2 linked regions of the Homo sapiens genome follow. The protein of the gene in region 1 purifies or fractionates together with the protein of each later gene. This does not show direct contact. Each region holds a gene or a part of one and is shown on either strand. Other genes may lie near its edges.

What was found.
Region 2: the proteins of NMUR2 (region 1) and SLC12A7 purify together in Homo sapiens (affinity purification with mass spectrometry; 2 studies listed by BioGRID and IntAct, with this or other methods). This does not show direct contact.

Annotation. Positions count from the first base shown.
Region 1 is NC_000005.10:152,401,471-152,407,570, reverse strand, and holds the start of NMUR2 (neuromedin-U receptor 2), read left to right. Parts: upstream 1-2,291; 5' UTR 2,292-2,457; coding exon 2,458-3,183; intron 3,184-6,100. UniProt on the Homo sapiens protein: Receptor for the neuromedin-U and neuromedin-S neuropeptides.
Region 2 is NC_000005.10:1,102,064-1,106,050, forward strand, and holds part of SLC12A7 (solute carrier family 12 member 7), read right to left. Parts: intron 3,567-3,987; exon of another isoform or gene 3,495-3,566; coding exon of another isoform or gene 3,380-3,494; intron 2,648-3,379; exon of another isoform or gene 1,851-2,647; coding exon of another isoform or gene 1,769-1,850; intron 1-1,768. UniProt on the Homo sapiens protein: Mediates electroneutral potassium-chloride cotransport when activated by cell swelling. May mediate K(+) uptake into Deiters' cells in the cochlea and contribute to K(+) recycling in the inner ear.

The DNA.
Region 1 (6,100 bases):
ATGATACAATGGACTTTGGGGACTTTAGGGGAAGAGAGGGAGGCAGGTGAGGGATAAAAGACAACAAATATGGTGCAGTGTATACTGCTTGGGTGATGGGTGCACCAGGTTCTCACAAATCTCTACTAAAGAACTTACTTGTGTAACCAAATACCACCTGTACCCCAGTAACTTATGGAAAAATATTTTTGTTAAAGAAAGAAATATTTTCCATCTTCCTCAGCGCTAAGTTTATAGTCTGCCACTGTGCACCCTTATAACGATCCTTACATCTAAATGAGATATTCTCATTAAACTTTTCCTATTTCATTAGAAAAATACGTTAAAGTTTGTAAATAGTGATTTTAACATCAAAACTTGCCTTTAACTAGAGGGCCCTAATTCTGGCTCTGCAATACCTATTACATGTCTGTAATTATTATTAATGTTATTGATCAATTTTTCCTACTTTTCCATCTTCTGTGCACATGCTAAGACAGCACTTCCTGACCCTGCTGTAGTCGAATGGGTACATATGATTAACCTTGGTCAATGAGCTGTGAGAAAAACTGGCAATGAGTTACTTACTTTTGGGCTAGAGCCTATAATTACCTACTTAAGACCATCCAGAGCTCTCTTTTCCTCTATCACAATGATAATCAAAATTCCAGAGAGTGACCACTGCATCAGCCTAGGTTTATGAGTGAGCATAGCATGAGACAGACCCTCAATACATTTGAAGTACAAGAGAAATAAATCTGTATTGTTTAAAACCACCAAGATATGTCAATCATTTGTTACAGCAGCGTAAACTATCTTAACTTGAGAGATGACTTATTCTTGGACAAGTCACTTTCCCTCTCTAATTTTTAACGTCATAATCTGATTTAACAAATAAAGGGAAAAAATTAACATTTAGTGAGCATCTCTTAAGTATAAGTTGCTTCGTTATATATAATTTAATTTAGTCTTCTCAATGACCATAAAAGGTATTATCTCCTGCAAAAATATTCCTAAATCCAAAGAAATCTCTCAACTCCACTGCTCATAGAATCCAAGCCACTACTATGTCTTACTAGCCTCTTACCTACCTTCTGTTAAAATTTCTCCCTCGTTAATTCTCCAGTGCAAAATCTTTTAAAGACTTCTCCCTGCCATTTGAATCAGAGCTAAACTCTCTTCCATGGCCTATAAGAGTTTACATGAACCTGTACCTGCCAGCCACTTCAATCTAAGCATTCATACTTTGCTGACCACTTATTAAATTCCAGTTATTCTGGTCTTCCTGATATTTTTAAAACCTATCCAGCTTGTTTCTGCCTCAGGACCTTTGCACTTGCTATTACTTTTGCTGAGTAATACACTTCCCTTAGCTCTTTCATGACTGACTTCATCATTCAGACCTCAGCTAAAGTGACATCTCCTGAGATAAGTTTTCTTTCACCATCCTTGATAAATAATTATTTATCAATTACTATCTGAAATTATATTATTAATTTATTCATTTGCTTGTGTGTTTTCAGAATTCCCTACTGCAAGAAAAGCTCCACTAGGGCAGAGACCTTGTCTTGCTTGTACACTAGTGTTTCTACAAAGCTTAGAACATTCCCTGGCAAATAGTGAATCCTCAAGAAGTTATTGTGGAACGCAATCGAATTAATGATGCAGATAAGGAAATAAGCCTCTAAGAGTTTGGGTAACTGTGCCAACTTTCCTAAATTTCTATGAGTGTTCCTAATTCTGAAGTCCATTTGCCTTTTGCTTACAGCAAAGCTCTGCTGAGACTGAAGAGTCAGTTAGCAGTCAGGGCTAGGCACTGTGCATGCGCCCTTTCAGGCTTCGGATTCTATCGTTGATGCAGTTAAAACCAAAAAGTCACATTAATCATGTTATCACATTAATCCCCAGAGAACCCTGAATTTCCAGTGGAACAAGATAACTTGAGAAATCTATTGATCTCCTATTTTCATCATGCTGTACGGCTGACAAGGGTTAGTGGAGATTGGTATTCTTTTGCCCATGGCCCTGCAACTTTAATTTCTATGTCTACCCAGATTCCCACAACTTTGCAACCTGCATTGCTCAAAGTGCCCATCCATGAAGTTCGAGTGGCTTCTTTTGTGTCAGCTCTGCCTTCCCAGCTCCTTCCCATTCAGGGAGAGGTCTCTGCCTCCTCCCCTGCTTCCTGACTCGAAGCCAGCACCCCTCTCCTCCAGTGCAGCCTAACACACTCTCATTGGCCCTCAGCCTGTCAAGGGGAGGGGCTTGTGTCTCCGGGGCTCTTCAAAAGGGATCGGCGGTCCAGGCAGCCTAACCTGGAGGGTGAAACACTCACTCTCTCCCAGCCTTCCTTACGAAGCCTGTGACTTTCGTGACTGCTTTCTCTTTTTTGTTTTCCTTTTTTCTTTTTTTTTTTTTTTTCCTGGCTCAGCTTGAAACAGAGCCTCGTACCAGGGGAGGCTCAGGCCTTGGATTTTAATGTCAGGGATGGAAAAACTTCAGAATGCTTCCTGGATCTACCAGCAGAAACTAGAAGATCCATTCCAGAAACACCTGAACAGCACCGAGGAGTATCTGGCCTTCCTCTGCGGACCTCGGCGCAGCCACTTCTTCCTCCCCGTGTCTGTGGTGTATGTGCCAATTTTTGTGGTGGGGGTCATTGGCAATGTCCTGGTGTGCCTGGTGATTCTGCAGCACCAGGCTATGAAGACGCCCACCAACTACTACCTCTTCAGCCTGGCGGTCTCTGACCTCCTGGTCCTGCTCCTTGGAATGCCCCTGGAGGTCTATGAGATGTGGCGCAACTACCCTTTCTTGTTCGGGCCCGTGGGCTGCTACTTCAAGACGGCCCTCTTTGAGACCGTGTGCTTCGCCTCCATCCTCAGCATCACCACCGTCAGCGTGGAGCGCTACGTGGCCATCCTACACCCGTTCCGCGCCAAACTGCAGAGCACCCGGCGCCGGGCCCTCAGGATCCTCGGCATCGTCTGGGGCTTCTCCGTGCTCTTCTCCCTGCCCAACACCAGCATCCATGGCATCAAGTTCCACTACTTCCCCAATGGGTCCCTGGTCCCAGGTTCGGCCACCTGTACGGTCATCAAGCCCATGTGGATCTACAATTTCATCATCCAGGTCACCTCCTTCCTATTCTACCTCCTCCCCATGACTGTCATCAGTGTCCTCTACTACCTCATGGCACTCAGAGTGAGTATCTAGGCTGGGGTGGCCTGAGGCAGCATCCCTTCTTTTTTCACAGGCTCAAAGTTCAGAGAAAAACTTAGAATTGGGGAAATTCAGAAATGGAAGGGAACAGAGGGAAAATAGAATGAGCTCAGATGGGAAATTGAGACTTAAAAGGACTTGCCTCAAATGAGATGAATGGTAACCACAACTATTTATCATTTCCTTTAGCTCGTCTTCTATTTTTCTTCCCTCTATTCTTGGGGTTCTCGTATCTAAATGTTCCTAAGAATCATGCAGAAAACTTACTTTGGGAGCAATATGCATACCTCACCCCCAGGAAAATGGGATTCAGAAGGTCTGAGGTGGAGCCTCATTTTAAATAAGCACATCAGGTGATCTGGGGTGAGGTGGCCACACTTTGAGAGACTTCTCCACATCCTGTTGTCACTTTCCAGCCCCTGGCCACTGCCTGCATTGAGATTTTCCTGTACACCAACTTGGTCTGAGTATAACACAAACTATCCCTGCCTATTTTGTAGTCCAAGATAGGTATTCAGTTTTAAAATCAGACATTTACTGTGGTTGCTCCGACCCTTTCATTAAAATGAGGTTGAAACAAAACAAAATAAAACTATATATATTATATGTATAGTTACATATATAATATATAGTCATATATATAATATATAGTTATATATAATATATAATCATATATATTAATGACATGACTGAGATAACTTGAGCTTCTTTTGAGCAGGTGCAGATTGAGAGATAAGGAAGTAAACAGCACATGAGATAGAGTGAAAAAATGTGAATAAGAGCTTATCTGAAATTAAGAAAAAGATATCACTTATTTTGCAACATATATAATTAGAGGTTCTTTTCCTATGTTTATGGTGGTAAACTGATTTCTTTTTCAGAAGGGGGGTGTCTAAATTAGCTGAGAGAAACTATTTTTAATAAGGGTAGGAATTAGTCTATATAATTCCTCTCTGGTATATTCTGCACCCAAATTCATGAAGAGAAAAGTTCTTCACAATGACAATTTTACACCCACTTAAGGGAGGTATTATAGCTTGTGTAGTAAACAGTTACGAGACCATTTAGACTCCCAGATCTACAGCTGACATATAATATGCCTTTAGGCAAGCCACATCATTCTCCTGGAATTAGTTTTCCCGTGTATAAAATGAAAAGGTCACATCAGATCCTATCTATGTCCCCTGTAGCTCTAACAGTCTATTATTCCTTTAAAAAAAGAAAAAAAAACACCTGTGAGCTGAAGTAATGTGAGTTTTAAATGACAGGACAAACAGATATCACATTCACATCATTTGCTTTGAGATGGCTCTGACATCACACTTTATGTGACAACTAATATACTCCTATTTCAGTCCATCTCTGAGAAGCCGATTGTCAGAAGCGAGTGCCCAATGGTAGTCCTTTTGAATACCTATTGTCCCTAAGGTGAATAGCGAGGTCTAAGTAGGAAGAACAAATTCTAAGTGTCACGGACATCTGGGCACAAGAGTAAATCTAATTAGGCAGAGAGCTGTGCCAGTCCCCTCCTGGAGGGCTAGCACCTGTATTCCCAGAGACATGTCCCACCCCGCACTAGCTCACAGCCATGTCTTAAGAACGTCCTGCACATCTCACTGCGGGGAAAAGACTTCTATACAACTCCAAAGAAAGTCTTATGAGAAATACCCACCCACTTAATATTACCTCATCCAATGCCAAACAGTCACCTATTTTGGGTCAATTTGGGAAAAATATTTAACTTTGAGTAGGAAATGCACAGTTCCTCTTCCAATCTGTTACAATCAGTTTCATTGTGTTTTATTATCAAAAGTCCATGGCTACCTTGTATCAGGAGGTAAGTGACAGCTCAGACAAAAGTTTAAAAACCACCCTGGTTTGCTTTGTGTATGTAATGCAACTTTTGACAGCCTGTTTTCAGGAAGGATGAGCTGTTATCCAGGGTACCAGAGGACACCAGGAAAGAAACTAACGCTTACAAAGTCACTTCTAGAAGAATTTAAAAATCTCTATACTGAAACTCAGGAAAAGTAGGCCCTATTCTGTGTCACTGATCGCAGGGCCTTTATGTACACTATACCTGTAGCCTGAAATGTTCCTACTGTCTGCCACCACTCCCCCTTTTGCCTTTCTAACCCTCATTTATTCTCTGTGTCATACTTCAACACGCTTCCTCAGGGAAGCTCTCCCAGATTCCCTGAGCATCCCTGTTTCCTGTTGTAGGTACTCATGGCTCTCCGTGATTTTCCTTCATTACAATTTATATTTCCATACTTATGGATTCCTTAATTAATTGTTTTCTCCCCAACTAGACTGTAAGCTCAGTGAATGAATGAGGCCAAATTACTTCCTTCATTGCTGGGCTTTAGCTTCTCTACCTTTAAAACAAAGACTTGGAAATATCATCTCAAGGAGACCCAAGCAATCCTAATGATTAAGTGAGTGACTCTGTTGGATAGTTTGAAGGTATGATTGACTCTGGGACCCACTGCTTTCAGAAGGCAGCAAGCCCAAGACTGATGAAATCACAGGACCAGAGAAGAAGGAGGAAACCCATATCTGTGCTCACAGCTCGGCATTCAGTCACGCTGCATCATTCCAGGACACAGCCACCACTGAGCTGTTCTCCAGGCTTTGAACATTATAGAGATAGAAAATAGACAATTCTAGGGCAAGTCCCTCCACATGTGGGAGGAAGTTCTGGTGACAGTCTGATTTAGTTCTTACATCTCCTGCATGCTGCATTCATGATTGAGGTGATGAGGATGGATGTATGAATTGCAGCAGAATTCAACCATGCCAACACAGGGTTGCACTAATTTTTTTAAGTAAATAGATTGTGTTAAGATTATAGAGATATTTACACAAAACCTATATTATAATCTGGTATTCTGAAACT
Region 2 (3,987 bases), about 150 Mb from region 1:
CAGATCCTGATGGGCTGGGCCCTTGGGGAACAGCCTCCTGGGCTTGTCCAACCAGGCTGTGTCCCCACCCCGAGAGGGAAGGAGGCGGCTGCAGGTGGAAGGGCAAAGACCAGACACACGAGTGTCCCGGCCAGAGGAGGGGCAGCCCCTCCAGCCAGAGAGGCAGTGAGAGTGTGTGTGTCAGATCCCTGACCCATCCCGATCCAGGCCTGGGAAGTGCGTTCATGGGTAGTTTCTGCAGGGAGAAGCTGGCTCACCTCCCTAATCGGCCCTAATCCCCTCTGAGATCACAATGCCTCCATCAGCCTCCCTATCTCCAGGCACAACCTCCTCCCTTTCTCAGTGGCTCATCCCTCCCCCTCTTCCTCCCGCGTTTTGGGATTTTACAGCCATTCTCCGCAAAGGGCTCTAGGAACGTCCTCTTAGACTCAGCCTCAGCCGGAAGCAGCTGACAGGCAGGAGGGGCTGTGAAGCTGAAGCCAGGTCCGACAGCCTCCGCCCCTTCCTGCCCTCCAGCGTGGGTGGTCCGTCCAGCTACCCAGCCCTGCAGAGCAGTGGCGGGTGGCACCGGACCTGTGCACACAGAGAGGCGCCGGGCCTGGGGCAGGGGACAAGCAAGTCCAGGCTTCCCGGCTCCCTGCACTCGAGGAGGTTCTCAGGCCTGGCTCTGTGTGTCCCCTGGGTCCAGCAGGCCACCCTCCCCTGGAGCCACAGGGGACTCACAGCAGAATGAGTCCCACCTGGTGACCCAGTGGCATCAGCTCACGTGGCCTCTGGGGACAGCCCGAGACTGAATGGACCCAGGAGCACCCCCCACCCAACCCCACTGCCTGGAGGCTGAGTTCCCTGTGAAGGCGCGAGGACCCAGGAACACTCCCAACCCCACTGCCTGGAGGCTGGGCTCCCTGTGAAGGTGCCGGGCACTGAAATAAAGTGTGTTTAGGTTCCAGGATCCGAACGCCAGCTGACGACCCCTGGCCCTTGCCCTCCCTCTGCCCCTCACAGTTTGTGCTGTGTGGGCCCCTAAAATCTAGAAACTGAGGCTCTCAAGGGGCACAGGATGAGAACGGCCCAGTGTTCAGGCTGGGACACGGGGGGCTTCAGGCAAGCTCTCAGGCTTCCAGCACAAGTTTCTGGCTAAAGCAGCGCTGCCTTCTGAGGGAAAAACAGGCCCTTCATCACCCATTCCCGAAGTGACCTCATCCCAACAGTCTGTGCAGACACCACCGCCAGTATCCTGTAAACCAGGAGAGCGCCGGGAGATCCCAGCTCACCGTCAGAGGCACTGGAAGCAAGGAAGCCTGGCTGGAAGGTCCTGGCAAGCTATGGCCAGACACACATGAACACACGCCACAGAAAATATACACTCACATGCACAGAGACATGCATGTGTACACATGCACAGACAGGCACTTCCACGTGCACACGCAAACTTGCTCACACGGAAGACACTCTCCATACCCATACTCACACGCTTCCCCCCTCATTCATACACACAACACTCACCTCGCAAACCTGCACACGCACCTGTCCTCACATGTGCATACCCATACCCGCAGTCACATACACACACCAACACCCGCACATACACGTGTACACACACACATACCTGCAGCACACACATCTGCACAAAGTCCCAGGGGCTACAGCCCCCAGACTGCACGACCCACGGGGCGGGGTGCCCAGGACACAGGCATGCACTGGGACTACAGCCCTTCCATCTAAAGGACACGCCTGCTCGCGGGAAGGTGGCCTCGGGTGAACTCACTTCCCGAACCCTCTGTCACGTGGCTGTTTGCTGGTCCTGGTCCAGCCTCCTCCCTCAGCAGCCAGAGTGACGTCTGAGCCATGGAGGGGCCGTGGGGTCCCCTAGTTCCAGAGACTCGGGGCCCAGGCAGCCTGCAGGAGCAGAGATGAAGGAAGGCGGGAGAGGCAGGGCCCCCAGCGCACCTGCCAGGCCCTCCCAGGGCGGCTCCTGTTACAGGCTGCCTCTGGGCTGCGGTCGGGGACCCTTGGCGGCATGGAGGGGACCCAGGAGGGGCCTGGCCTGGCGCACTTCCCTCCTCCGATTTCCACTCCACTCAATCCCTCCCCAGTGACTGCCCAGGGCGTCTCTGAGCCTCCCTGAAAGCCCAGGCCCGACCCGCTGGCGCCAGAGGTCTGCAGACAGAGCCAAGGAGATGAGAGGTCACAGCCACCGCCACCCTCGTGACAGGCTGGCTCCTGCCAAGGGAAACTGAGGCACAGAGCAAATGTTCAAGGATCACTTTAACAACCTCCTCCCGGCTGCACGTCTGCAAGGTGGACATCCCCTGTGCACGGGACTTAAATGGACAGGAACGCTGGGAGGGCCAGCGGGGCTACCCCACCATGAGGACAGCTCCAGGCCATGGCAGACACACAAACCAGGCATGCCAACCAAGCACACGGGCATGCTGCGTGCGGCTATCCATGGCCAGCCTTGGGCTCAGGTCCCAGCCCCCAAACTTCCCAGAGCCACTGTAACCACTACAGTGGATGGCAATCTGACTCCAGGGGTCAACACAGGCCTGGGCGGGGCCCACTCTCATCCCGGACCCCAGGACCACTCCCCACAGAGCCGAGGCCCACCGGGGGGTGCGTGTGGGGTGCGTGTGGGGTGCTGCCCAAGAAAACCCCAGAACGCAGGAAACAAACCACCCCAGGTCCACACGTGATTCAGAAGCAGCACTCTCCTCCCCACAACTGTTTCCTCAAAAAGACACCGCCCAAGGGGAGAGCGGAAACAGGCACGGGCTGGCAGGATGGGGGCCCACGTCACAGCCCAGGGCCGCAAGCACCACTCGGACCCCGAGACCCCTGCAACGGCAGCACACGCCCCTCCCCGCAGGGGTGAGGTCCTGCAGTCACCCACCAGCCAAAAGGGACCCTCCCCGCAGGGGTGAGGTCCTGCAGTCACCCACCAGTCAAAAGGACCCTCCCCGAAGGAATGAGGTCCTGCAGTCACCCACCAGCCAAAGAGGAGCCTCCCCGCAGGGATGAGGTCCTGCAGTCACCCACCAGCCAAAGGGGACCCTCCCCGCAGGGATGAGGTCCTGCAGTCACCCACCAGTCAAAAGGACCCTCCCCGCAGGGATGAGGTCCTGCAGTCACCCACCAGCCAAAGGGGACCCTCCCCGCAGGGATGAGGTCCTGCAGTCACCCACCAGCCAAAGGGAACCCTCCCCGCAGGGGTTAGGTCCTGCAGTCACCCACCAGTCAAAAGGACCCTCCCCGCAGGGATGAGGTCCTGCAGTCACCCACCAGCCAAAGGGGACCCTCCCTGCAGGGATGAGGTCCTGCAGTCGCCCACCAGCCAAAAGGACCCTCCCCACAGGGATGAGGTCCTGCAGTCACCCACCAGCCAAAGGGGACCCTGCCGTGGGCCTGCCCCCCGGCACTCCCGGCCAGAGGCTCCAGGACCCTTGGGGAGTCAGCGGCCACAAACAGGGGAAGAGGCAGGGCCTGGACAGCATGGCCAGCCAGGCAGCTCATCGTTCAGGAGCTCATCGTTCAGGCTGCTGCGCTGAAGCCAGAGGTTTATCTGCACAGAACAGGCCTCTGCCCCCAAAAGGGAGTTTCCCCTTTCTTCATAAAGGAAAGGTATTAACCCTTTGTGCTCTGCCCTTGTCCCTGGGCAGCACTTCCCCAGCATCTGAGAAGGAAGGCCAAAGGAGACCAGCCCCCCATGTCAGTTACCAGGAGGGCCCCCAGCCAGCTGCTCACCAGGCCCCAGACACCCCCAGCCCAGCCCACTGCCCTGAAGACCAGCTGGTCCACTCCTGAATGCCGTCCACGCCCAGCCCCACTGGGCTCCACGGGGTTCCCATGCCCCACAGTGGGAGGGGGAGGTCTACCCCTCAAGGCCCTGGCGGGCCTCACACTCCCCAGCACCCAGGGACTCCTGCCCCACCCACCACACGGCCGTCACAAAATGACTCTGGGATCCACCCTCAGAAACACTCAGCT